4 linked regions of the Homo sapiens genome follow. The protein of the gene in region 1 interacts with the protein of each later gene in a pairwise test. Each region holds a gene or a part of one and is shown in the gene's direction. Other genes may lie near its edges.

Region 1 (7,527 bases):
TAAGATAATCAATACCCAGATTTTAATTTTTTATGTGCTATTTCCTAGTATCTTTTTTCCTACTCCTCCTTTCACACTAAAACTTTTCCCACTTTATGCAAGAAATACACAGCTCCCTAAATCTTACTCTGGTGCATTACCCAGGGGTAAAAGCCCCAAAAGTGCCATGATTTCAAAATATTGTTCTCTTCTATAATGGTATGATGGTAATTTTCATTTAAAGACCTCAGCCACAATTATTCACTAGTTTTAGAGAATTATTTTTTTTAGAAGGATCTGGTAAGAAAAAAAGACAGGGGAGAAAAGTTAGAAGTTAAGTGACAGCAGCTGGTTTTTAGCCAATTATTCCTATCCTGAGATGGCCAGGTGGAAATGACCAAATCAAATCTCCTTGTAAACATGCAAGGTATATTCTGGTGGAAAGAGAATGGGGAGTCCTTGTCTATGAAATGCTTTTTAGCAGGGTACACCTGGTCTGTCTAGATGGCCTAAGGTAAATAAACCCGGAATTGATCGATATATTAATACATGGAATGGCCCAGTGGAAAATGTCAGTGTCCACCATGTAATTATTTCAGTATAAAACGGAGATAGTTCCTGACTGAAAGAGCTCCATCTGTGTAAGTGTTCACCGGCATAACTTACTCAGAGACCTCACCTGCGAGATCTAAGCCAGAATGTGTTCTAAGGAATTCGGGGAAGCCCTGGGGACCTGGGTTAGTGGTTTTGGATACTGCCATTATTTTCTTGTGACTGGGTAAAAGAAAGCTCTGAATCTTGTCAGTCTGATTTGACAATCCAATCCTTGTTTTACCTCAATAAGATATATTAAATGTTAAAAATGGCTTTTTACATGTTTCCAAATATACGCAATTATTTTCTGCTAATCTCAAGCACCCCTTTGGCCTAAGCAGATCCAAGTTTTGTGATGCTTGCAGCTTTCACAGTTTGAATGGCCTTCTGTAGGAAAATAATAAAAGTGAATCAAAAAATTACTAATTTAAAAAAGCTGACGAATACTACAGATACCACAAAATCCAGAAAAATAACATCATTCTATTATTCAGGTGCTTGGCACAGCCCATAATACTTTCCCCCACCTTTCTTGGCTCTATGCTGATTGCTTCTTCATATGAAAATGATTTTGCAACATATTCCACAGAGATAACAGATAATTCAGTTTTTCCTCTAGCATAGTTTATCAAGATTAGCTTTTTAATATAATTTAGGAAAGCTCAGTTCAGCTTCATAATTCAGTATTAAGAGTGTCACAGAATTTCACAATTATCGAATTTGGAAGGACCACTAATACAGGTTTTGACCAGGTACTGAGGAGCAAACCAAATCCTTTGCTTACACTTTTCTACAGATGAGCTTCTGGCCCTGTTCACTTTACTTGTTCCTTCTACCACATCCTTCTGGTACTGGGCACTGTAGGACCCAAACAGAAAGCAATATGGTGCCTGGCCAGTGTCTTTCTGTTTGGATGCCAGGTAATTCTGCAGTCAGTAGTACGAATATTCCTAGAAGTCAGCACTAGACTACTATGGCTAGCAGTAACTTAACCATACGTGGAAGCTTCTGTGAACATAAACATACCTCATAAAACAAAAATTAACCACACTGACTTACTGCAGTTTTTTGCTTGTTTGTTTGAGACAGAGTTTTGCTCTTGTTGCCCAGTCTGGAGTCAATGGCACAATCTCGGCTCACGGTGACCTCCACCTCCCGGGTTCAAGTGAGTCTCCTGCCTCAGCCTCTTGGGTAGCTAGGATTACAGGCATGCGCCACCACGCCCAGGTAATTTTGTATTTTTAGTAGAGACCGGGTTTCTTCATGTTGGTCGGGCTGGTCTCGAACTCCCGACCTCAGGTGATCCGCCTGCCTCGGCCTCCCAAAGTGCTGGGATTACAGGTGTGAGCCACCATGCCTGGCCTGCAGCTTTGTAGTTAAGTTTTGAAATTGGAATGTGTCAGTCCTCCAACTTCATTCTTCTTTTTCAAGATCTGTGTGTGTGTGCTCATGTGGCTATTCTGGGTCCTTATATTTCCCTGGATTGTATGAATTTTAGGATCAGCTTGCAAAATTCTGCAAAAAAGTCATTTGGGATCTTGACACGGATTGTGTTGCGTCTGGAGGTCCATTTGAGAAGTACTGCCATCTTCCCAATATGAAGTCTTTCAACCCTTTAACATGGGATGTCTTTCCATTTATTTAGGTCTTTAAGTTCTTTCAGCAATGTTGTATGGTCTTCAGCATACAAGTCTTGCACTTATTACATTTATTTCTAAGTATTTTATTCTTCTTGATAATATTATGAATGGAATTAATTTCATTTTTGAAATGTTCATTGCTAGTGTATAGAAATACTATTGATTTCTGTATGTTGACCTGTTGTCCTGAATCCTTGATGTACTCATTTATTAGTTCTAACAGTGTTGTAGTAAATTCTTTAGGGTTTTCTATATATAACAATTTTGTGTATAGAAATTCTACATGTTTTAAACACATTCATCTTTATGGCTGTTGGAAATTTAAAAAATTCTATTTAAATGTATGTACTTTTTAAATGTAAAGAAGTAGAGTAGATGACCAATAAAAGATTTCCTTTCTTTTTTTGGTGGGGGCCAGGGGGTACAGGGTCTGGCTCTATTGCCCAGGCTGGGGTGCAGTGGCACAATCTCAGTCACTGCTGCCTCTGCCTCCCCAGCTCAGGTGATCTTCCTGCCTCAGCCTCTGGAGTAACTGGGACTACAGATGTGTACCACCATGCCCAGCTAATTTTTGTGTTTTTTTGTAGGGACGGGTTTCGTCATGTTGCCCAGGCTGGTCTCGAACTCCTGGGCTCAAGCGATTCTCTTGCCTCGGCCTCTGGAGTAGCTGGGACTACAGGCATAAGCCACCAAGCCTGGCCAATATTTGCAAGACTAAAGAAATATTGACATACAATTTCACAATATGGAACGGAAATATGAGTTCAAGAAGAAAAGAAATGATGTAAAATTTCCTTCTGTTAAAAGCTTGTTCATGTAGTTTTAAAAATTGATGATTTTAGATATTAAATTGGTATTTAGATTCCACTGGCTACATTTAAAAGTTATATAACTTTTATTTTAAAATGTTAATTTATAATAAAACAGAAGTTGCTTCTTTTGTAACTATTTAAGTCAGATGAGAAATTGTGATGGTCAATCCAAAAACGTGGAAGTGAGAATACAGTCATAGTCTTTGGGGACTCCTTTGGGGGTATAAGAGCAAAATCATTTTGAAACCACTGTATTAATATATTCCTAATAGGTTTTGCTTTTTGGGATGACTGACTGCTACCTTTCTGAGATTTGAGGGAGTCACTTAACTGGTCCTAAGGCCAGGCGCGGTGACTCACGCCTGTAATCCCAGCACTTTGGGAAACTGAGGCAGGTGGATCGCTTGAGGTCAGGAATTCGAGACCAGCCTGGCTAACTTGAGGTCAAGCTTTCAAGACCAGCTTGGCCAATATGGTGAAACCCCGTCTCTACTAAAAATACAAAAATTAGACGGGAGTGGTGGTGCACAGCTGTAATTCCAGCTTCTCTGGAGGCTGAGGCATGAGAGTCGCTTGAACCTGGGAAGCAGAGGTTGCAGTGAGCCGAGATCATGCCACTGCACTCCAGCCTGGGCAACATAGTAAGACTCTGTCTCAAAACAAAACAAAAACACAACAACAACAAAACTGGTTCTAAATGCTCCGGGCAAGTACATACTGCTTTTTCTTTTTTCTGTTTTTTTTTCCCTAAGGCAGCCCTATTGAAGAGTCTGTCATCTACAATATTTTACTAATTTAAAAACACTTGTCAAGAAGGGTAAAGTATGTTCATCTTGATTTTACTCTTTGTATCCCGGAATCAGGAACTAACAGTTTTATGATAGTGATATAGACTTTACACACACACCAAGACTTAAAACACGTGGTGCAGGCGGGCTTTTGGAAATTAACTGTGCTCTGGATACAGAAGTCACAAAGCTCAGGCTGCAGAGACATTGAGGGGATAATCAGCCTTTATTGTCTCTCGTGCACTGTGCCCAGCGCTCCCTCTAGCGGCTACAAGCGCTCACTGCCCACACTCTCTACTAGGCTCTCCGGAGGCCTCGGTTTCGCTGGAGAGAAAGAGATTGCGCAGGCGCCGAGCAGCCGACGTGGCCGCAGGGGACCGTGCCTGGGGGGGTCTGCGCGGGGCCGCTGACTCGCGAGGTTCTCTGTCGCCTGCCGCCCTCGCTCCTTTTCTCCCCTTCTAGAGTGTTACGGTGACTCTTGGGTCCGAAGGGGACGGACGTCCTCCCACGTACCATTTAGAAGGTCAGAGTGGGCAGAACCTAGTCTGAGCAGGCCGGTGATGAATCCGCTGGCAAGACGCGCGCGTGGGTACTCACGTGACCTAGGCTGCGGCGGCGGCGTGCTGCGGGCTCTGTGGCGGGAGCGAGGCCGACGGGCGGGGCCGCGCGGCCGCGTGACGCGAAGCGTTCGAGAGCGCGCGTCGTGGAACGTCTTGGTTGCCACGGCAAGCGCGCGCGCGAGGCCTTGGGAACCTCGGGACCGGCCCCCGGCGAGCGCAGCGGCGCCCAGTGTAAGGGAGTGGGAGCTGGTCCGTGCCGCGGCGGCCGCGCAGGGAGCTCTCGAGGCAACGCCGGGGCGCCCGAGGTCTGGAAGGCGCAGGTGGGGCGCGGGGGAGTTCACCCCTGCGCGGTCCCTTGGGTGGGCGGGGTGGGCGCCCCAGGCCCCGCGGACTCGGCTGGGAGGCTGAGCGGGCGACGGTCACGGGACAAGGGTGGAGGGGGTGGGGACCTCATCCGAGTCTCAGAGATGGAATTTTCGAGGAAGGGAGCGATTTCGAGAGAGAATAGTTTGAGAAGTTGTTCTCAGTCCCTTCTCTCGCGGGAGTGTGGTATTTAGGGAAGCTTCGGCCTCTTAACCCATGGACTGTTAGGATGGAGGGAATCCTTCCCGCTCGATTCCTATCGCGGAGTCCTTTCGGAGCATCGCTATTGATCATTCTCGCCGCCCCAACCCCGTTGTTTACTTTGGCTTCGCAGATCTCTGTGGTCTTTTGCCCTCCCGCAGCGCCCATGGCCCCGTCAAGGTTGGGCAGCCTTTCTCTGCAAGAAGGCCCACGAACAACTGCGGTTATATTGGGATGGATTGCGCGTGATTTTACTCTTTACAATACATTCTTTCATGCTTCCTAGGGATTGAGCTGCGCGGCGGATCCCTCCGACTTAATTCTGGGCCTGAGAAAAGTTTCTCTTGGAATGCGCAGTTTCGTGACGCAGCATTATTGCGTGACTCTAGGGCTGACCCAGTTTTTCACTTTCTAATTGTAAGGAAGTGCGCTAGTAGTCCACCGAGGATCCTCGAGGTTGGCCTTATTGTATCATAATTTAACGAATTTGCGTTCCAGGTTGTTACAGCCTTTGAAATAATGGCCTCATATTTAAGAATGTAGCAATTTTTCTTTGAAATTTCCGAAAGTGGGGAAAAAAGTAATAGAAGACTGCACCTATATGGAATTATTTTCTGATTCGCAGTTCTTTATAATCGTAGACTTAATTTGGTGGCTTTATTGGACCTGTTTGAAACAGGAAGCCTTTCTGTAATGTGGTTTCGGGTCGGCTTCACCTCTGGCACTCTCTGAAACGTCGTTGTCTATGGTTTCCCTAAGAAGCTAGAATGAGCGGGATGCTACGGAGGGAGGTGTATACAGGTGTTAGACAAAGCCCCCTCCGCTTTTTTGGTAAAGGGCCAAATAGGCATTAGATCAACTTGTGCTAGCTCTAAGGAGTTAAATGCGGTATTATTAAAGACTGCTTGTAATGTTGACTGTTAAGTGAGAGTGTTACTTCTTTCAGTGTTTATGGAATCGAACTAAATTGCTAGGTATTTTAATGCAGAATTTTACCTTTTCTCGGGTATTTTTTAAGACATACACAGACATACATGTAGTTATGTTGAAATAAATGTGTTTTATTAGAACGTTAAAAAATTAGAATTTAGGTGAACTACTGGTATCGGAACAGATTTTGGTTTGTTGTTGAAGACTGTACACTGGTGTAGGTACTGTTTAATACATCAGATTGTCATTTCAAAGACTTTGTCTTCTTAACTTTGAAAATTAAATAATGTGAAATAATGTGATAATGGTTTTTATCTTTTCAGGACACTTGATTGACACTTAATTGTGCTTAGGAATAGAATAGGCTTTTTTTTAAGTCACCATCCTCCAATCCTTATTTCTGTAAAATGTATTTTCTGAGACCGCTGAGGATATAGCAAATCCCAGTCACAAAATAAAAATGTGATATTTTAATATAAACCTTTTTCTTTCTGTGTTGAGATTCCCCAGAGATTAGACTGAAATTGACCATTAGACTTATATATAACCTCTAGATACCCAGGCTCTTCTCTCGTGTATCCTTTTTTTCTCTTTAAGATGGAGATGTAGCAAGGAAGGTTATTAAGCAATCCTGTGGAATTAGCCCTCCCACTCCACCCCTACACACAGGCACACTCTTCTTTCTCAGTAGCCATCTTGTTCCCTCCATTGACACATTATTAGGAAATCTTTCATCACACCGTATGTAAAATAAGCTTAGAAATAAACGTATACCCAAGGTAAATATTGCTTCTAGCTATATTCCTTCATTATGCCTCGCTTCTACTTTCAAATGCTACCTATTGAAGATTTAAGCCACATGACTTTCTACGACGGGACACTCTGGGTTTTCTTCACCCCTCCCTCACTCTGCTGACTTGTAAACATAGTAGGACTTTTAGATTTGGAATCAAACACATCTCATCTAATTTTCATTTTCATTTTTCTTTTCTTTCTTTCTTTTTTTTTTTTTTTTAAAGAGACAAGGTCTTGCTCTGTCACCCAGGCTGGTTGGAGTGCAGTGGTGCAGTCATAGCTCACTGCAACCTTGAACTTCTGGGCCCAAGCGATCCTCCGGCCTCAGCCTGTGCAGTAGCTGGGATTACAGGCGAGAGCTCATTTAATTTTCTTGACAGATAATCTTCTGATCCATGAACTGATTTGAATGTATCATTTACTAGCTCTCTTCTTGGGCAAGCTGCTCAATATTTGTAAAACATTTTTAAAATCAGATATCAACCTCCAAGAGTGAGGATTGGATAACCTTAGAAGGGTGCCAGACACATATAGAGAGCTTAACAAAAGATAGTAAATTTTGGTGCTTCTGAGGGCCAGAGACAGACCATGTCCATTATATCTTTGCTATATATTATAGTTGTGAGTGATTTTTAAAGCAGTACTTTTAATTTGCTTGTGAACCCCCAAATAATTTTTGTAAAACTGTCCCTCTTGCACACTTTTGGTTAACTTACAGCATTTTACATCATGCGTTAGTTGAAAAGAATGCAGTTTCCCACATGGTATTGATATTAACATTTTAATATTGGTACATCATTCTTTCACCTGTATTCAGTGGGGTATCATATCTTTGTAGTTTTATATCCATCACCATCAATTTTTA
Region 2 (7,028 bases), on another chromosome or scaffold:
AATGCCTGAATTCAGTTGACTTTTTAATATAATAGAAGAGAGTTGTTTGTTTGTTTTTAAATAAGACATCCTTGCTGAGTAATGATTGAACACTTCTCTGGATAAAGCAGTCTCCATGCTCCAGTGACAGGCTTTAGGGAGGTATAAAAGATGTAAAGACATGTGTCTTTGCTCTTGGGGTTGAGGGTGGATGGGAAAGGTGGTGTATAAATATGGGAAGGCAGACTATTATGAGCTTTAACATTTAGGAAACAACATATAGACAAAAGCAAATTTAACGTGCTGATAAGTATGTAAGGGCTGAGAAGACTTAAAGTAACAAAGTAAGAATCAGTGAAATAAATTGGGGAGATTTCTGAGTCAGTAAATTTTGAAATGGACTTGGGAGGCTATGGATGAGTCATAAAGAGGTATGGGCTATTGAGTTAGATGGGTCTTCGTTCAGACCTTGCGGCTATTTTTTACCATGTGACCTTGGACAAGTTAACTTCTTTTCCTTATCTGTAAAATGTGAGCATTCAAGTAAATGAAATAGTTACTGTGTTGGGAATAAAAGAAAAGAAAGGATCTTCCAAACAGAAAGTATAGAATGTACAGTGTGCAATGATGATATGAATGACTAAGTTGTGAGTGGGGGGAATATATGAGAGTGACTGTAGAGAATGTGGGTTGGGCAAGTCATGAGTAGAGCAGGCAAGAGGGTGGAGGGGACTCAGAAGCCAGACTCTGTTGGGTGTTGATAGAAGGGTCAATAGAATCATTGTAGGTCCTTGAACAAAGGACGGATTTAATGAGAAATATTGAGCCCTTTGGTTCAGGAACTCAGGGACAAGGAATCAGGCAGGCATCCGTACATTGTGACTCTTATTTTCTGTACCATCCTAACCTGAAGGGATACAGCCAGGAGGCATAAGATTCCTTGTAGAAGTTTTTGTGTTTACACACCTTACTATGCTGAGCCTGCTTGTTCCTGTCTCGTAGTGCACCAACCTGTGGGGAAGTCTCAAGACTATGGCCGGATTCTCCTCAAGAGCTTATAGTAAGGACAGCATTATGTTTCAAGTGCATTTAACTCTCAGTTGTCTCTGCTAATGTAGGGAGCACTGTTGTAGGTAATTCAGAACTTAACAAAGACATTTCCTGGTTATTTTCAACTGTGTTTTTTTTAGGATTATACCTTATCCCTTTATTTCCTCTAAGAAATAGTTTTAGATAAGAAAAATTACTAAACTGTTATTTGTAGTGACCCACTATGAGTTTAATTCTTTGCTAGGTGCTATGGAGGTTTAGGAAAAATGACAACTTTGCTCCCAGACTGAAGTACAGTGGCGCAATCTCAGCTTACTGCAAGCTCTGCCTCCCAGGTTCATGCCATTGTCCTGCCTCAGCCTCCCGAGTAGCTGGGACTACAGGCGCCCACCACCACGCCCGGTTAATTTTTTGTATTTTTAGTAGAGACGGGGTTTCACCGTGTTAGCCAGGATGGTCTTGATCTCCTGACCTCGTGATCCGCCTGACTCGGCCTCCCAAAGTGCTGGGATTACAGGCGTGAGCCAGTGTGCCGGGCCGAAAATACATTATTTTTTAAACTAGATTTATTTTCATTTTTGGGGATCATACTAATATTGAAATAAATTTGCATTTCTAAGCTTATATTACCTGATGGTGGGGAGAGTACACTGATGATGAAGAACAGTCATTCTTGCATTAAAGATTTGGCCTTAGAAATCCGTAAAATGAATAATCCATTTGTAGATAATTAAGACTAGACTACACTGAATATGTTGATAGACCAATTTCTTTTCAAAATCTGTATGGATCCAATGTGGCCTCCTAGGCTGTCTGTCTTATGTCTGAGAATGACTGGCAGGTGATGCTTGTGTTCCAGCCAGAATGAGCCTTCATTCACAGTATCTGGACGAATGCCACTACATTATGTTGTGTTGTTGAAGATTAAGCCGGCTTTCTCAAAGGACTTGTGCTTTGTAGAGGCTCTTCCAGATATCAGCTTCATTGAAAATCTGTCAGACTTTTCCTCCTGTAGGAAAGTTGTTTGAAAGTATGTCCAATTAAAAAAAAAAGGAATGGGCAGAAGTGTCCACATTTAAGAAGTAAACAAAATCACATGCCATTCTTTCATCCCTTTTTTTTCTTCTCCAGTTGACTTGCTTTTCTCCATCCCTGCCACTCTCCCCCACCTCTTTATAATCATTACCAAACTGATGTCACGAGCACAGGATTATTATTTACTTCTTGAGTCAGGAGATTGTAGTATTTCTGAGCTAGAAATCAGGTGGAAAAGTCAGGAATCTTATTTTATACAACTAGATAGGGATTATTTTCAACTGTGCTTTTTTTAGGATTATACCTTAGCCCTTTATTTCCTCTAAGAAATAGCTGTAGATAAGAAAATTACTAAACTGTTATTTGTAGTGACCCACTATGAGTTTAATTCTTTGCTAGGTGCTATGGAGGATTAGGAAAAATGACAACTTTGTGTCCTTGAAGAGTTTACAGTCCAGTTGGGAGTAAGAAGAATAAAAAGGAATGAATACTTGCTGAGCCTCTTAATATGCCACACAAAATTTTAAAATGTGAAACTATATTGTTAGTTGCATAGTGCAGACCTCATACCGTAGGTATTTGGGGAGAGGAGTACTCAGGTAGTTATGTCACAGAGGAATTATAACTCATTTCAGATCTTAATAAAAAAATAGGCCAGGCACAGTGGCTCACGCCTGTAATCCCAGCTACTCAGGAGGCTGAGGCAGGAGAATCACTTGAACCCAGGAGATGGAGGTTGCAAACAGCCGAGATAGCACCACTGCACTCCAGCCTGGGTGACAGAGCAAGACTCTGTCTCCAAAATAAATAAAAAAATAAATGAATAAGTGTTATTGTATTAGGTACAAGGGATGAAGATGAAGAGGATAACAAAACATTTCATATTGGAGCTGAAAGGGATCAAGCGAAAGCCTGGAAACAGGACTATACCTGAGATGTTCTTGGGGCGGTGAGGAGACTAACCTGAGTGGCAGTGAGCAGTAGTGAAATGAAGGTGGGTAGGTTGGTTTGGAGCTATGTTTATAGAGGGTGTTAAAAAGCTAGGCTTATAAGTTTATATATATATATAAAATTTATTTATTTATTTATTTATGTATTTATTTATTTATTTTTTTGAGACAGGGTCTTGCTCTGTTGTCCAGCTCAGGCTGGAGTGCAGTGACACAATCTTGGCTGACTGCAACCTCCGCCTCCTGGGTTCAAGTGATTCTCGTGCCTCAGCCTCCTGAGTAGCTGGGATTACAGGCGTGCACCAGCATGCCCAGCTAATTTTTGTATTTTTAGTAGAGACAGGATTTCACCATGTTGGCCAGGCTGGTCTCAAACTCCTGACCTCAAGTGATCCGCCCACCTTAGCTTCCCAAAGTGCTGGGATGACAGGCATGAGCCACCGTGCCCGGTCAACTTTATATTTTAAATGGTAGAAGATTTTTGAATAGAATAGCAGTATGATGATACTAATACACAGGTTGGCTGGGAGGGAATGGAGATTGACACTGGGGGTGTGTGAAGTGATGAGGCCCGAGTTAGAGTTGTGGAGGGTAGGCTAAGGAGAGGAAAGAGTGAAAAAGAGACTGTGAAGGAAAAATGGAAATTAATGAGGGGTGGATGTGGGAGATGAAGAAGGGTGATGAGTCAACTACAACTGTGACACGTTGTGCCTGGGTGTCTGAGACATTGAGTGAAATAAAGAAGTTAGGAAGCTTTCCTCATTTTGGGGAAATATGATGAGTATAATTTGCGATGTGTTGGATTTAAAGTGGCAATGAAATGTCCAAATGAAGGCTGTCCTGGGTGTGAGCTGGAGTAAAGATGGGGGTAGGTTTGGAAATGCAGTTTTGCAATTCATGGCCTAGATGTGGTAGCTGTAGCCAAGAGAATTAATAAGCTCTCTGAGGACTAAAGTTTAGGGAAAGAGCAGAAGGGCAAAGAAAATGGTACTGATAAACCTAAACACGTCTAAACCTAAACATGTCTCCTATCTTGTAAACACCATCCTAGGCACTGAGATGGAGGTAAGGGAGACAAGGAACCCACGAGGAGCGTATGGGTCTAGTGGGAGGAGACAGATATGTAAATATATAGATAGAATGAAGTGTGATAGATGCTGTGATAGAAGTATGCAGCAGGGAGAGTGGGAGCCCAAGGGTCAGTTCTGCCTTGGGCATGCTGAGGTTGGAAAGAGCCTCCCTGAGGAGTTAGCATTTGAGCTGAGTCTTGAAAGATGAATTAAGGATATACTCTACAGATGACAAGAATTACATTCCAGTCTGAGAAAATACCATGAACAAAAGCTTAAAGGAATGAAGGCCAGACTTCTTCAGGTAACTTTTACTTAATCATTATGGCTGGAGGATGGGATGGAGGGCAGGCTGAAGAGGTAGGCAACGCTGGATCATACAGAGTTTTTATCTTTTTTTTTTTTTTTTTGAGACAGAGTCTTGCTCTGTCACCCAGGCTGGAGTGCAGTGGCACAATCTCAGCTCACTGCAAGCTCCGCCTCCCGGGTTCACGCCATTCTCCTGCCTCAGCCTCCCGAGTTGCTGGGACTACAGGCGCCCGCCACCATGCCCGGCTAATTTTTTGTATTTTTAGTGGAGGCGGGGTTTCACCATGTTAGCCAGGATGGTCTTGATCTCCTGACCTCGCGATCCGCCCGCCTCGGCCTCCCAAAGTGCTGGGATTACAGGCGAGAGCCACCACGCCCGGCCTGGAGCTTTATCTTATACTGCAGTATATCAGGAGCCATTTAATACGTTTCACATCCTAGAAAGATTATGTCAGTGGTGTGTAGGGTGGATTGGAGATGGAGAAAGCAGAATTCCTTTCAATAACTTCATTATACTGAACACATTTATTGAGAGTGATCATATTTACAGATTCATGGAATCAGACAACTGGCGGGGCTGCGATGCTTTCTTAGTTTTCCTCATTCATTTTCAAATAGAATACCTGAGGTTTACTCAGGATCACAGAAGTGGTTCTGTGATAGCTTAGTCTAGAATTCAGTCTTCAGCATGTACTAGGTGATTAATAAAGGTGAATTCACCTCTCTCTTCTCTCCCAAGTCCCATTTCAGTGTTTGTGTCATTCTGCCACATTGCATTGTACTAGCAGATAGAAGGACTTAACATCATTCCATTCTACCGTCTTTTTTTAACCAGTCCAAAGTGAATAGAGGTATTTTCCTAGGTCTGACTGAGAAAGATGTTCCCTGAGAGTACCATTGGGAAGAGGGGCAGTTCGGTGCCCTGGACTGGGCTGAATGAGGTGTTAGGATTTTTCAGCTGTAGTGATTCAGATGTAGAAGAATGTCAAGGTATTTGTTTTGTTGCATGTCTTTATCTCTGCCACTAAGCTCCCTTTAAGTTGTTTTCTTTTAAACTTAGTTTTATTTGTGCCACTGAAACTTGTTAAATAAGCTATGATAAATTGGGCACTGATTAAAAGTATATTTATCTAAAAAAAAAAGAATATCTAAACAAAATTTAGAAAAGTTCAGGGAAAAAACCCAAACAGAAACAATTTTGAGCCTACATCCCAAATTTGATGGACATTAACATTTTGTCATATTTGTTTTAGATGTCTTACTCTCTTTAAAATATTAAATACTCAGATTCTGCATCTTCCCTGTATTTTCATTTTCATTGGATTTTTGTGGAGGGAAATTGTTTGGTTTTAAAGTGCTAAGTGAGAGTTTGGATTTTGTGTTTTAGTCACTTTTGCTGGAGGAGAACAGAACAGGGTAGAGGGCATCCTCTAAGTCCTTAGATTCCCCTGGGAGAAATTGGGACTTAAGGACGTGTGGAAGGATGGATACCTTCCATTGATAGGCCTTCCTCAAAACTTGTCTGAGTTGTGATTTTTAAATTCTTTTCTCTGGGCTCTGTCAGCATCTTCCCCAGAGAAGGGCCTTGGTTTGGAAGCTGTCCACTTAAGCAGAGCTGCCAAGTCTTAATTCTTTCTCAAGTGGGCAAGGGTACATTTTGTTTTTGTTTGTGAGTATTTGGGAGAAGGAAGGGGTGGGTAGAAAGGAGGCACAGAATAGCTACTCACAGTGAGTACTTATCTGAATTCCTGTGTAACTGGAAGCTTTCTTGGCTGTTTTAGGGGAGATAACTTGGTTACACTAGCATTTAAATTATGTGGGAAGGTGGTTTTTCACTCCCCTCTGCTATCTGATTTGAGATGGCAATAAACCTTCTTGTCCATTTTTGTCAGTCCTCACTCTACCCTGTTCTAAGCGCTGCTGTTTGAGGGATGTGAAGGCTCCTCTTCAGTCTAAAACTGAACAAGTCAGATATCTCCTTATAGTTTTGGGAAACCATTCTGCTCCTGACTGTTTTTGTGTTGACTCCTCTATTCATCAAATCACCTGGCCCTTTATTAATTTTACAATTTTGCATAATGAGATATTTCAAACATTTAGAAAAGTTCAGGGGAAAAACTCAGGCAATTTTGAGTCTACAACCCCAACTTGATGGACATTAACATTTTGTCATATTTGTTAGATGTCTTACTCCCTTTAAAATATTAAATGTTATAGATATAGCTGAAGTTCCACCCTGCATCCTTTCCTCCTTCCTCTTTCTCAAGAAATGACTACTGGCCTGAATTGATGTGTTCATTCCTTCATGTTTTATACTTCCTCTGCCCCGCCACATCTTTATTTATTTATTTATTTATTATTTATTTATTTTTGAGATGGAGTCTTGCTCTGTCACCCAGGCTGGAGTGCAGTGGCACGATCTCTGCTCACTGCAACCTCTGCCTCCCGGGTTCAAGCGATTCTCTTGCCTCAGCCTCCCGAGCAGCTGGGATTACAGGTGCGTGCCACAGTGCCCAGGTAATTTTTGTATTTTTAGTAGAGACGGAGTTTTGCCCTATTGACCAGGCTGGTCTTGAACTCCTGACCTCAAGTGATCTGCCCACATTGGCCTCCTAAAGTGCTGGGATTACAGGCA
Region 3 (7,028 bases), on another chromosome or scaffold:
GTACAACAGGTAGTTAATGAGTTTTAGAAAATTATACCTGGCTGAGCACGGTGGCTCATGCCTGTAATCCCAGTACTTTGGGAGGCCAAGACAGGCAGATCACAAGGTCAGGAGATCGAGACCATTCTGGCTAACACAGTGAAACCCCATCTTTACTAAAAATACAGAAAAATTAGCCGGGCGTGGTGGCGGGCACCTGTAGTCCCAGCTACTCGGGAGGCTGAGACAGGAGAATGGTGTGAACCTGGGAGGTGGGACTTGCAGTGAGCCGAGATCAAGCCACTGCACTCCAGCCTGGGCGACGGAGAGAGACTCCGTCTCAAAAAAAAAAAAAAAGAAAATTATACCTGTGGTGCAGTAGAGTTTTTGGTGTGTCGTAAACATTCATGAAATTCCAGCCTGGCCAACATGGCAATACCCCTTCTGTACTAAAAATGTAAAAAAATAGCCTGGCATGGTCGCGGACTCCTGTAATCCCACCTACTCAGGAGGCTGAGGCACAAGAATCGCTTGAACCTGGGAAGCGGAGGTTGCAATAAGCGGAGATCGCGCCACTGCACTCCAGCCTGGGTGACAGAATGAGACCCTGTCTTTAAAAAAAAAAAAAAAAAAAGAAGGAGTTCATAAAATTGCCAGACTAGAAGAGAGTACCCGCTAGTATAGCTGTTAAATTTTCCATTTCCTAGATCGCATGAAGATGGGTCCTCAGATGGCAGGTTGCATCAGGTACAAGCAGAAACGAAGTCACTACTCTTCTGGGGAGGAGCAGGATGGAGTGGGGTGGGGGTGTGAGGGCCTCCCTACTCCAGCGGCCTTGGTTGGGGCTTTTTTGCTGCCATACCCCAGCTTCTGCCGAGAACAAAGAAGCAGAGTGACACGGTCGTCCTAGTGCTTCCGTGTTGTTCCTGGTGTGCTGGTGACACGTGGACTGTGGGTTTTTTGGGAATCAGTATGAGAATTATTTTGGAAAACTGCATTTCGTAGTCTGTATTCTGAACTTGACAAATGAACTAGCCTGCAAACTTTAGGATCATGAGGAAGCACCCCCAGTATTTCAGGGAGCAGAGCCATTGTCAAATCCAGAGGCACTTGAGGGTTCTCTGCCCTGTTGTAAATGGCAGGAGTGTGTCTTCCTAGTAGCTGCGTCCCCCCAACATCCCCTCAGCCTGGCCAGTTTTGTGTGAAGGAGTGAGCCCCTGAAGCCGTCAATCCCTTTTTCAAAACCGTTTTCAGTCTTGAGAGTAACAGAAATTCCAGTTACTCTGAAAATGCCAGTGTTGAGAGGTGAAGTGTGTGCTTAGATTTTCTTTCCCAGCAAGCAGTTGTGTGTGCTGGGTGTTTCAGAGCCTCTGTGGCAGCAAAGGGTGGTGGAAAGTGAGCTGCCAGCAGGGCGTCTGCCCGGCCACCTGAGACGTCCGAGGACGGCCTGTCCTGGGGTGGTGCCCCGGCCCAGCTCCAGGCTGGGCCATGCTCCTGACCCACAGGCTGAGCCTGCTACCGGGTTTAGAAAGTGCCCAGTGAGGGTTTCATCCTTTTCTGATAGTCAGGTAATTCTACCATCAAACCTCAGGGGATCTGTAAGAGCAAGAAAATAGTCAGCCTTCTCTCCGTCCAAGCTCTGAGTTCTGAAGGGTTTTCAGGCCAGGCTATGGAAACTGTGGGTATTTTGTGAAACACAGAAGTGCAGCCCCTCTCCTCTCACCCCACGATTCCGGCTGGGGAGGCGCCATATTTGGTTAGGTGGGCACTGTTTGGTGTGGTGTGCGGTGCTGTGCTGTGCGGTGGTGTGCTGTGCTGTGCTGTCGTGTGTCGGGCTGTATGGTGCTGAGGTAGATAATAGAGTGGAGTCGTGGAGCTCTGGACCGACTTGGGCACGAACATGCAGGCACATGTGCCGACCTCAGTCTTCATCACACGGCACCATCAGTGTTTGCCATTCTTCACAAAATGGTGAGCCGACGCGCCTAGCCCCCGTGTTCAAAGGAAAGCAGGACTCCCGCAAGCCAGTGCCACGTGCATGAATCAGGGACAGCTGTGTGCTGTTTTGCAGAGAGGATGCTGGCCGAATTGAGGAGCAGGATCTACCCCTGCCAGCAGTTGGCTGTGAGATCTTTGTAATGGCAGGGTTGGAAGGGGTCATGGCCGTCTGCTCCAACTTCCTCCTGGAGTTTGCACTCAGTAGCTGTCAAGATGGCTTCCCAGGTCCCCCGTGAGCGCTGCTCGGAGGTGGCTGTGGTGTGTGTGAAGGGGATCCCCTCACTGCTACCCATGTGTTGCCTCCCGTTCCCTGCCCGGGTGTGGCAGGGTTTCCAGGGCCCTGGTGACTGCGTGCCCATTGGTCCACCTTCAAGCCGCCCAGGGGTGCAGCATGGCTGTTGCTTCGTGAGCTGGGCCACGCCGAGAGCAGTCATGCTAAGTGCCCCTCTTATCCCAATCTCGGGATGCAGCATGGCTGTTACTTAGTGAGCTGAGCCAAGCTGAGAGCAGTCATGCCGAGCGCTCCTCTTATCCCCATCTCAGGCTCTCTGTGAGCCAGTCTTCTTTCTGGGCAGCCTTTCTGGCCCCTTTCATGCGTCTGTGGAAAAAAGAAAAACAGCTACCCAAAACTTAGGTAGATCTTTAGGTCATCAGGAAACAATGGATCTGCTGTTTTCATTTAAAATTATTTTCCAGATCTTTCTAGACCAAAGAAGCAATTCTGGTGGCCGCGAATTGTCAGTAGGGTGTGGTATATCAGAGCTGGGAGCTTGCTTCAGGAGTACTCCATGGGCTGGGGATCAGCTCACTGGTGCTATGATGCTTCATTTGGCATCTACCATTAGTGGGAATTCTTTAATTTCATCCATGGTGTAATTTCTTAGCTCATAAGAAAACCCAGTAAATTCCTGGTGTAGCTTGGGATGCCAGGTCCTATATTATTAGAATTACGATTTACTTATTTTCTACCTTGAAATTTCTATTTTTCCCCAGTGTGCTCATGGGAGCTTAGAAGATCCCAAAAGTATAACCCATCATAAATTAATCCACGCTGCCTCAGAGAGGGTGCTGAGTGATGCCAGGACCATCCTGGAAGAGAACATCCAGGACCAAGGTAAGGCTGCTGTGGGCGGGCGGGTTGGCAGCAGGCATCGTGCACTGCTGGGGGCGCTGGAGCCAGGAGGGGGTGGTCCACCCACAGGAGTCAGTGTTCTGAGCTGGACACGAGCACAAAAACGAGATCGACTAAAAGCATTCTGTTTTTCCTTTATTAAAAAGAGTTCTGTTATAGAGTATTTGTGAAAAACAGCAGAAATTGAAATTGAACAAGCAGCAGGCATTTGAGAAGCCAAATGTGAATTTTGCTTTTAGTTCTGTTTCAGAGCAAAGCCAGAGACTCCAGGGGTTCTGCAGGTTTCACCTTCGTTGTGGTGATGTTGGCATCCCAGTGCAGTGTTAGACACACACATCCATGTAATTGCTTATGGTTTTGTGTCTGGAGGCACTTGAAGAGCAGACATCAGTTTTGTCTGTGTCATTCAAATAATGCCTTTAATTGTGGAAGTCCTTGAAGTAAGCTGTTTTGAAAATCCTGGAAGTATTGCTAACAGATATCCGCTGAGATGACCATCAAGCTCCAAGCCAGTGGGGGATGGGCACCGTCGTGGGCCGAGGATGAGCTGCATCTCAGGTTTTGACCTCTGAGGGTTAAGACTAAACTCTCCACCCTCACAGACTTTTTCAGAACTGAGCCGGTTAAAATGCCTGTTGCAGGATTGTCACCAATTCTTTGCACAATTATTGGGGCCGTGCTGTGCCTGCCTCCTGGGCCATGGGTCACCTGGGGGTTCGTGCCAGGCCTGGGAGCTTGTACCTCAGCTAGGGCCATGCAGATATCATGCAAAAGTGAGGGAAGGCTGGTGTAGATGCTTGGTTTGGGGGGACCAAAGGAACCCATGCTCTTTTGAGACAGGGTGTCGCTCAGTCACCCAGGCTGGAGTGCAGAGGCACAGTCAGGCTCACTGTTGCCTTGACCTCCTGGGCTCAAGCAGTCCTCCCACCTCAGTCTCCCAAGTAGCTGGGACTACGGGCATGTGCCACCATGCGCAACTATTTTTTATATTTTCGTAGAGATGGGGTCTCGCCATGTTGTCCAGGCTGGTCTTGAACTCCTGGGCTCAAGTGATCCGCCTGCCTCGTGCTGGGATTACAGGAGTGAGCCACTGCACCCAGCTGAAGCCCTGCTCTTCTTCTTTTTTTTTTTTTTTTTTAAGATGAAGTCTTGCTCTGTTGCCCAGGCTGGAGTGCAGTGGTGCAATCTTGGCTCAGTGCAACCTCCGCCTCCCAGGTTCAAGTGATTCTCCTGCCTCAGCCTCCCCAGTAGCTGGGATTACAGGCATGCGCCACCACGCCTGGCTAATTTTTGTATTTTTAGTAGAGATGGGGTTTCACCGTGTTGGCCAGGCTTGTCTTGAACACCTGACCTCAGGTAATTTGCCCGCCTCAGCCTCCCAAAGTGCTGGGATTACAGATGGGAGCCACTGCGCCCGGCCGAATCCCTGCTGTTCTGTTCTCAGGGCATCCAGCACCCTTTATGCCATTTTGTGGATATGAAGTGATAACCAGTGTGTTGGATATACGTGTTGTTTTTTCTAGATGTCCTATTATTGATAAAAAAGCGTGCTCCATCACCACTTCCCAAGATGGCTGATGTCTCAGCAGAAGAAAAGGTAAATTTCAAAGTTTGCAATTGGGGACCTTGGTTGGTAGAAGTCTACATTTAAGAATTACAGGCTGGGTACAGTGGCTCGCGCCTGTAATCCCAGCACTTTGGGAGGCCGAGGCGGGTGGATCACGAGGTCAAGAGATCAAGACCATCCTGGCAAATATGGTGAAACCCCGGCTCTACTAAAAATACAAAAAAAATTAGCTGGGCATGGTGGCTCATGCCTGTAGTCCCAGCAGCTCAGGAGGCTGAGGCAGGAGAATCTCTTGAACCCGGGAGGCAGAGGTTGCAGTGAGCCGAGATCGTGCCACTGCACTCCAGCCTGGCGACAGAGTAAGACTCCATCTCAAAATTAAATAAATAAATACAAACTTAAAAAAAAAAGAATTATAAAGAAGTTCTCTATACTAGTTGTTCACCAACCCACGCATTCGCCATTTACAGTAGATGTGGTTATAAGGGGTTCTCTCTCCCGGCAGAGCCTGTTTAATCCGTGTCAGTCCTGGTCCCTCCCTGCTCACGGGACCAGCACGGAAAACCTGCCTCTGAGTTTTCTGAGACAGAGAGGAGGGTAGGGACACATCCTGCGTGACGGTTCACTCCCGCGCTGCTGTCCGCCTTCACCTGCGTGTGCTCCTGTTCCCTCCTCTTTTCAAGCAGCCAAGTCAGTCCTGACAGAAAAACGGAGGAAAGTGGGTAACCAACCACCACACAGAATAAGGGCTGCGCATGCAGAGAGTGGCCGGTGAGGGAGCACTCGCGACAAGCCCCACCTCACACCGCACAGCCTCAGCATCCCCATCGGAAAATCCAAACGCAGAAATGCAGCGCAGTCTGAAACTTTTTGAGTGCCAAAATGACACTTAATGGAAGTGCTCGTTGGTGCTTTTTGAGTTGATTATTTGGAATGCAAATATTCCCAAATCTGAAAAAACCCGAAATCCGAAACAGTTCTGGTCCCGGGCATTTCAGATGAGGGATACTCAGCTGCACTGTTAATGCTGAGAGAGGCTGAGTTCTGCCTGTCTTGTCTATTTCTTGCAAAACAGAACTGGATGTCGTTGGTGTTTACATTCACTCACACGTTATTGATTCATGGTCTGCACCGTCCACTTGCACGTGTACCTTAGGAACACCGTGCAGTGTGTTGTTTACTGGCTGCCCTAGAAGCTCATGTTTTGGAAAGCTCACTGAGCAGAGGAAGATGCGTTCTGCAAGTGGCGTGTCCTACCCCACAGCAGGGCCTGAGCCCGTGCCGAGCATGGAGCCTGCCAGCTAGAAGGGCAGCCACTTTCCTCTGCTGTCTTTGCATTACTCATCTCAAGGGTAGAATTTCTTACTCGTGCTTTGAAAGGCTAAGGAGAGTGTTCACCCCAGAGAAAGAGCAGGTCAAACTCTTTTGGGCTAGGCCCATGCCTGGTAGTGCATAAGCTATTTTTGGGTTTCATCTGGGACCATGGGTACCCAGGAAGAGCACCCTGGGCTTGGGTCCCCTCCTTATCTTCAGCCACACCTGGCCACGCATGAGTGACACACAGGCTGCCGCCCCACCCATCTGCAGCGGACAGATCTGGGCCTGCCTCCGCCTGTCCCTGAGTCAGGCCTGTTTCTGGGAACTGCTGCAGGCAGCATTCACAGTTCTCAGATTACAGTTTGACCGTTGGTGTTCAGACTTACAGGCCCGTAACTAATATAAACAGCGGGGTCTGACCATACACCCGTTGCCCCACAGCCTCTTGGATGGGTAGCTTGGAGCTAACCTGAGGAGCTTACCTTTTCTCTTCAAATATTTGCAAACTGAAACATTGTAAGATGTCAGTTCATATTTTTATGAATTAATTATTATTATTTTTATTATTATTTTATTATTTTTGAGACAGAGTTTCGCTTTTGTTACCCAAGCTAGAGTGCAGTGGCGTGATCTCAGCTCACTGCAACCTCCGCCTTCCAGGTTCAAACGATTCTCCTGCCTCAGCCTCCCAAGTAGCTGGGGTTACAAGTGCGTGCCACCACGCCCGGCTAATCTTTTGTATTTTTAGTAGAGATGGGGTTTCACCATGTTGGCCAGGCTGGTCTCGATCTCCTGACCTCGGGTGATCCACCTGCCTCGGCCTCCCAAAGTGCTAGGATTACAGGCATGAGCCATTGCGCCTGGCCTACATTAATTTTTAATTTAGTTTTTGTTTTTGTTTTAGAGACAGGATCTCACTCTGTTGCCCAGGCTGCAGTGCAGTGGTACAATTATAACTCACTGCAACCTTGACCTCCTGGGCTCAAGCAGTCCTCCTGCCTCAGCCTCCCGAGTAGCTGGGACCACAGGTGTGTG
Region 4 (5,878 bases), on another chromosome or scaffold:
AAGAATTCCTGTACCGTGAAGCATCCCGTCGTGGCAATCACATTCCTACCGGCCTGGCTCAGCACAGCCTGTGTTGCCTCTATGGGCTGAATTTTAAAAGACACAATTTGCTTTCTTTTTACTATCAAGAAGTTCATGTTTATTGTGGAAAATTTAGTAAATGGAAAATGTAAGAAAAAAAAAAAAAAGTAAATTGCCCATGCCTAGCTTCCAACCCAAAATGACATCTTGGTATTCTGGAGGAATGAGCTATACACACTCTTTTATAACCTGCTTTAGTATTTTGATAAAGCTTTCTTTGCTTATCATTAGGTATTCTTCTGTTCCTGCATGCTGGTGTTTCGTTATGTGGACACTTGATTTATCTAACCCAGCCCATGACTGGCTGTGTGTCGTCACGTGGCGCTGTCAGGCAGGCATGTCCCCAGGAGGCCATGTTTTGTGTTAAGTACACAGTCTTAGGCTCTCCCTGCCACACTCACCCTGCCATATGTGTCCTTGTCTTGTAGCCGAATCTGTGACCTCTCTGCCATCCCAAAACAATGGAACTACCAGCCCTGACCCCTTTGAGTCTCAACCCCTGACTGTCGCCTCAAGCAAGCCCAGCAGTGCCCGGAAAACACCTGAGTCCTTCCTGGGCCCCAACGCGGCCCTGGTGAACCTGGACTCACTGGTGACCAGGCCTGCCCCACCAGCCCAGTCCCTCAACCCTTTCCTGGCACCAGGTAGGCTCTCATCCCAGGCTTCATCCATTGCCTGCTGTGCCTGGGAATGGGTGTGCAGCAGGCCTCTTGGGGGCTCTTCCCACTGTGTGACGGGGAAGGGGTGGGACTAGCTGGAATCTCTAGATGATTACGTATGCCCTCGCCAGTGCTGCATGGGGTGGGGTGTGGAAGCCGTTGTCAGTTATGTGGGGAGTGTATGGGTAGGAAATAGCTCCTCTCCTCTCAGTTGAGACTACCAAGCAGAAACTGTCCCTGACTTGGTGCCCCCCCAGTTGTGAGACCCTCGAGGGAATGTCAGTTCTAAGACAGGTGGAGTAGGGTGGGCTGCTGGGGGTGAGGAAGAGCCAGGGTTTGGCGTGTAGCATTCCTCTCTCGGGAAAAATGTAACTTAGCCCTTGGGTACAAGCCTTCCTCCAGGTCCCTTGCTTCCACTCCTGGTGCCAGAGTCTGCCCCCTGCCCTCAGGGCTCAATGTTGGCTGCCGGCCAAGCCCCCAGCTGTTCAATTGGGTATCCAGGGCCATTATGGCCTGGTCCCACCCTCCTCTTCCCTTCCTGTGTGCATGAAACCCTTGTGACATCCAGCCCCTTGGCGCCCCTCAGCCTGTAGAGCCCTTCCTTAAGCCCAGGCTGTTACACACTCAGTTTCCCCTGCCTGGAATGTCCTCCCTCCTCTTCCCTAATGAAAGCATCTTCCTCATCCTTTGACACCTAGCTCAGATGACTCCCTTCTAGGAAGTCCACCCAGCCCCCTTCCTCACGGGGTTTCCCCAAAGCCTTGGGCTTCCCCCAGGGCAGGAATGTGTCACCCTCAGGTGTTCAGCCCCAGGCTGGCCCCACCATGTAGGGATCTGAGGATCTTGGGCCACCGTCCCTGACAGTACCTTGCAGAGGAGAATTACCACTGAACTTACAGAGGCTGAGGTTGGGGACCCTTGGGCAGAGGTGAGGTGTGTGGAGTTACTGGGTCCTGGCCAACCCTGAGGTCCTGAGATGGGTGAGGACATGGCTGCCCCCAGGGGAGGTGGTTCCCTGGGTGGAACTAGATTAGTTTCCAGCCTCCTCAGCCAGCCAGGAGTCTGTGTCTGCCCCAGGAGGCCTTATGCCTCTTCTGCCCAGAGAGCCCTTGAAGGCCCTGCAGGAGCTCCAGTGGTCATCTGTGTCTGTCAGCTCTTGGTGGGCACCTGGCTGGAGGCCTGAGGCAGCTTTGTTGGCTGCACACCAGTCATGGTTCCTGGGGGCTGCAGCCAAGATGGAGGAGGTTTGGGCAACTCTGCTGGACATACAGGGCCATTCTCCAGGCCACACAGGGTAGGGCCAGGCTGCATGGGAGAGTTGGTGCCAGCAGCGCACACACTTTTGCAAAGAAAAGGCTTTCTGGTATGAGGTAAATTCTGGAGACACTGGGAAAGACAAAGCTGCATCAACTTCTTGACTGCAGGATTTCTAGCCTTCGCGGTGTCATATGTGGATCCCTGGGTGCATTGTGGGCACTGCCACATGAGCCACACACTGCCAGTCCCATGTCCCTTTCAGCAAACAAAATGAGGGAGCAGTGGTAGCTGATGGCTGGTGAAGGTGTCCTGGGTGCCAGCACTGCAGAGGAGCCAGGGTGCCCCGAGATGGGTGTGTTCCTGGCATGGCCTTGTTCAGCTTTGTGACGCTGGACAAATCACTTGGCTTCTCACAGCCTCAATCTCCTCATCCTTAAAGTGCAGATTCATGCAGTCAGCAGATATTTGCTAGTGTCTGCCATGGACTCGGCCGGCACTGTCACGGGCTCTGAGGGCACAGCAGGGACCAGAACACCCGCATGCAGTCCCTGACCTGGGAGCTCAGAAAGCCACACCCTGACGGCTCAGCCTCTGCCCCTCCTTCTGTCTCCCCAGGTGCTCCCGCCACCTCGGCCCCTGTTAACCCTTTCCAGGTGAACCAGCCCCAGCCGCTGACACTGAACCAGCTTCGGGGGAGCCCAGTCCTGGGGACCAGCACATCCTTTGGGCCTGGCCCAGGAGTGGAGTCCATGGCTGTGGCCTCGATGACCTCCGCGGCCCCACAGCCAGCTCTGGGGGCCACTGGTTCCTCTCTGACACCACTGGGCCCTGCAATGATGAACATGGTGGGCAGTGTGGGTATACCCCCATCAGCAGCCCAGGCCACTGGCACAACCAACCCTTTCCTTCTCTAGTGCCTGGGCCTGGGACCCACCCAGAGCACCTGTGCTGGAGGATGCCGAGCAGGGACTCTCGTCTGTGGGACGGGATCCAAGAGTTTGGGGATTAGGGGTATTAGGGCTTTTCAGCTCCAGCTTCCTGATGAAAGGGCTGTCTTTACAGCCCCAACCCTCAGACCCTCGCCTTCCAAGGCAGGCCCCTCAGCCTGGCCTGCTCTCACCACCTCCTCCAAAGCACTGAGGTCCTGGCAGGGCTCCTCTGAGGCCTTGGACGAGGACGTGGAGTCATCAGTGTTGCCCTTGCCCCTAACCTCAGCCCGAGGGTCTCCAGGATGTTGCCTGGCCCAGGACTTGGGACAGTGGCCTTGTCTTTGTCCTCCCCACCCCCCAGCCCTAGGGACACCCCAGGCAGTCCTGGGTGTGGACACGATGAAGCACCGGCTCCATAAGACACCTTTTGGGGAAGTGGTTGTGCATATTTTATTTTTCTTTGACTCGTGTGAGTTCAAAGTAAACACCACCACCGTGGACAACTCTTGAATTAAATCCACTAGAGCGAGCTTTAAAACTAATCTGAGCATAACCCCCAACGTGGCTCTATGCTTGTGTACCTTTGCACATATTTTGTTTAGTACAGTTTCATATTTGAGTTTGCAGAATTATCTAATAGTCTTTTTTTGGCTAATATTTTTATAACGTGGTTCTTATTTAACTGTCTAGTTTTGATAGAATTTACCAGGTCTGGCTGAATGAAGATGTTGGCACGTGTCATTTTAGTGGTTTAAATCCTCTTATTTATGGTTTTAACTCTAAGAAAATTTTAAAAGGAAGAGATGTTTGGATGACAAAAAAATGCCTTATTGAAAAACTAAAGCAAATTCTTTATAGGAAGAAAATATGGGAATTTGATTACACATAGATGATGATGTTTATTTAAAAAAAAAACAACAGCAACAAAAAATCCTAGCCTCCAGTTGCCTTTTCCTTTCTTTAGCTCCTGTTTTTGGTGAATTACTAAACTGATTGACTTTCAGCCTTTTTGGCTAGATCCTGAGAGGCTATTTTTCTTACGAATATACCAACATCCTGAAAGTTAAAGAAAAAAATCTAATGTATGAATGTGACTCACCAATTTTTATCAACTAATTCCTTTTTTTTATTAAAGGCATGCAGGGATTAACAGGACTTCTGTTTACAATGGAAATCTGAAATGGAAGAAACATCTTTAACCTTGTGTGTCTGTGATCTCCTCTGTCTTAATCCACGCTCAGGCTAAAGATGGGGATAATGTGGAAATGGCAGTTGTCCCGAGGGCGTGGGGTGGGGGGTGCTTCTGTGCCCACGGGTCCCTGGGCAACAGTCCCTAGGCTAAGACAGGGGTGGGGGGCTAAGGGACCAGGGCTGGCCCTGATCCACCTACCTGCTAACTCCAGATATTATTTTTAAGTTGGAGACCTAAAAATAATTCTCTTGTATTTTGGAGATGAAGAAAAAAGTCATTCACCTGGGAGGGATTTTTAACAAACATGCACTAATATTACCTCCCTCTTCCAAACTCCTACTGTCCTCACCTCACCCACCACTGTAAAAGTATTACGTCGTGCATTAAAGACCAGAAAAGACTTGCTTTTACCCAGGGAGGGGACATTCCCCCAATCCTGTGTCTGGGCAGCTTGCCTGGTGGATGTTTCTGGCCCTTTTTCCACCATGGGAATTTCTCACCTCTAGCTCTAAGGGCAGCTGACCACCTGCCAGCCCCTCTCTGGTTCCAGAAGATTACCCTTCGCACCGGCACAGGAGAGATCTTAAATGGTCTCTGGGCTGCTGGGACATGCAGGCTCTGAGTGGGGACTGCACCCACTCATGCTGTTCCTGAGGCCGCCCTCTCCAGTCCCAGGAGCCGTGTCTAGAGTTCCTGACCAGCCACCTTCTGCCAGAACTGCAGGCCTGCGGCTGGGTCTTAGGCTCCCGCTGCCATTTGGGTAAGCCGGTGGCTGGTCTCGTCTGCCGGGGGAAGGGTGGGGAGGTGCAATGGGATGGGAGGCAGGATGCTTGCCCAGAAAGGTGCTTTCCTTCAGACGGTGCAGGGCCTGGGCCAGCCTTACAGGTCAGTAGACTAGACTCGACTACTTGGGGTCAGTGATTCTTTTGTAACGAGTCTTTCATGATGTGACTTTGAGGCCCCAACATGACAGCCACTGGGCCACCGGGACCCAAGAAGACAGCCCCCTGCCCCATCTTCTGGCACAGGCCATCCCGAGTGCATGTCCCTGTTGCCCACTGCACTGATCATGAAGCCACCGGCCACTGCCACGCATGTTGCACCTGTGCCATCGTGCTCCCTCCTGATGGGCACCGTGGTGGAGGAAGTCACCCAGCTGTTTCTCAGTCCCAGAGGCCGGTGGCTGGTTTTGAACTTGTGTTGACTGTTGATACTTATTTACTGTATAAATATAATTTATCATTTGTACCATGATGCGGTTTCTGGCTGTGTCCTTCTCCCACCCCATCTTCATCAGTCCTGTGCCACTGGAGAGGTGGGAGATGAGGGAGCCGATTCTTGTGGAGCTTGGTCTGCAGTTATTGAGGCCACCAGCCTGGTCCTAGTGCCCGCGTGAGCTGGGCATTTGGTTGCCCCTGAACCTCAGGGAAAGGGGGTGGGAGGCGTGCCTTTTGTGAGGTGCTGAGACTGGTGGCCTGCACGGGTGTGCTGGGGGAAGTGCTAGCCACTGCCCTTTACCCTTCTGTGTCCGCCCTCTTAATGCGGCCTTGTCACTGGTGGAGGCTGCTTTGGATGAGGTGGAAGTGACAGTGTGCCGGGTCCCCAGAGGCTTCCTGTGCTCTGCCTCCTCTTGTGTCCATGCTGCAGAAGAGCTGCTCTGGGAAGCCACTGCCTGTCAGCTGAGGCAACAGAGGGAGGGAGTGCGTGGAGCTGCCCAGCCAACTGCGTGTTCCTGAGAGGAAGGGCCTGTTGGAGCCACT

What was found.
Region 2: the proteins of SPART (region 1) and OTUD7B interact in binary tests that used the Homo sapiens proteins (3 or more experiments, as listed by UniProt).
Region 3: the proteins of SPART (region 1) and UBAC1 interact in binary tests that used the Homo sapiens proteins (3 or more experiments, as listed by UniProt).
Region 4: the proteins of SPART (region 1) and EPN2 interact in binary tests that used the Homo sapiens proteins (3 or more experiments, as listed by UniProt).

Annotation. Positions count from the first base shown.
Region 1 is NC_000013.11:36,343,391-36,350,917, reverse strand, and holds the start of SPART (spartin), read left to right. Parts: upstream 1-4,523; 5' UTR 4,524-4,693; intron 4,694-4,784; exon of another isoform or gene 4,785-5,117; intron 5,118-5,343; exon of another isoform or gene 5,344-5,738; intron 5,739-7,527. UniProt on the Homo sapiens protein: Lipophagy receptor that plays an important role in lipid droplet (LD) turnover in motor neurons.
Region 2 is NC_000001.11:150,000,716-150,007,743, reverse strand, and holds part of OTUD7B (OTU domain-containing protein 7B), read left to right. Parts: exon of another isoform or gene 1-1,039; intron 1,040-7,028. UniProt on the Homo sapiens protein: Negative regulator of the non-canonical NF-kappa-B pathway that acts by mediating deubiquitination of TRAF3, an inhibitor of the NF-kappa-B pathway, thereby acting as a negative regulator of B-cell responses.
Region 3 is NC_000009.12:135,951,358-135,958,385, reverse strand, and holds part of UBAC1 (ubiquitin-associated domain-containing protein 1), read left to right. Parts: intron 1-2,970; coding exon 2,971-3,091; intron 3,092-4,632; coding exon 4,633-4,706; intron 4,707-7,028.
Region 4 is NC_000017.11:19,331,344-19,337,221, forward strand, and holds the end of EPN2 (epsin-2), read left to right. Parts: intron 1-509; coding exon 510-725; intron 726-2,612; coding exon 2,613-2,911; 3' UTR 2,912-5,372; downstream 5,373-5,878. UniProt on the Homo sapiens protein: Plays a role in the formation of clathrin-coated invaginations and endocytosis.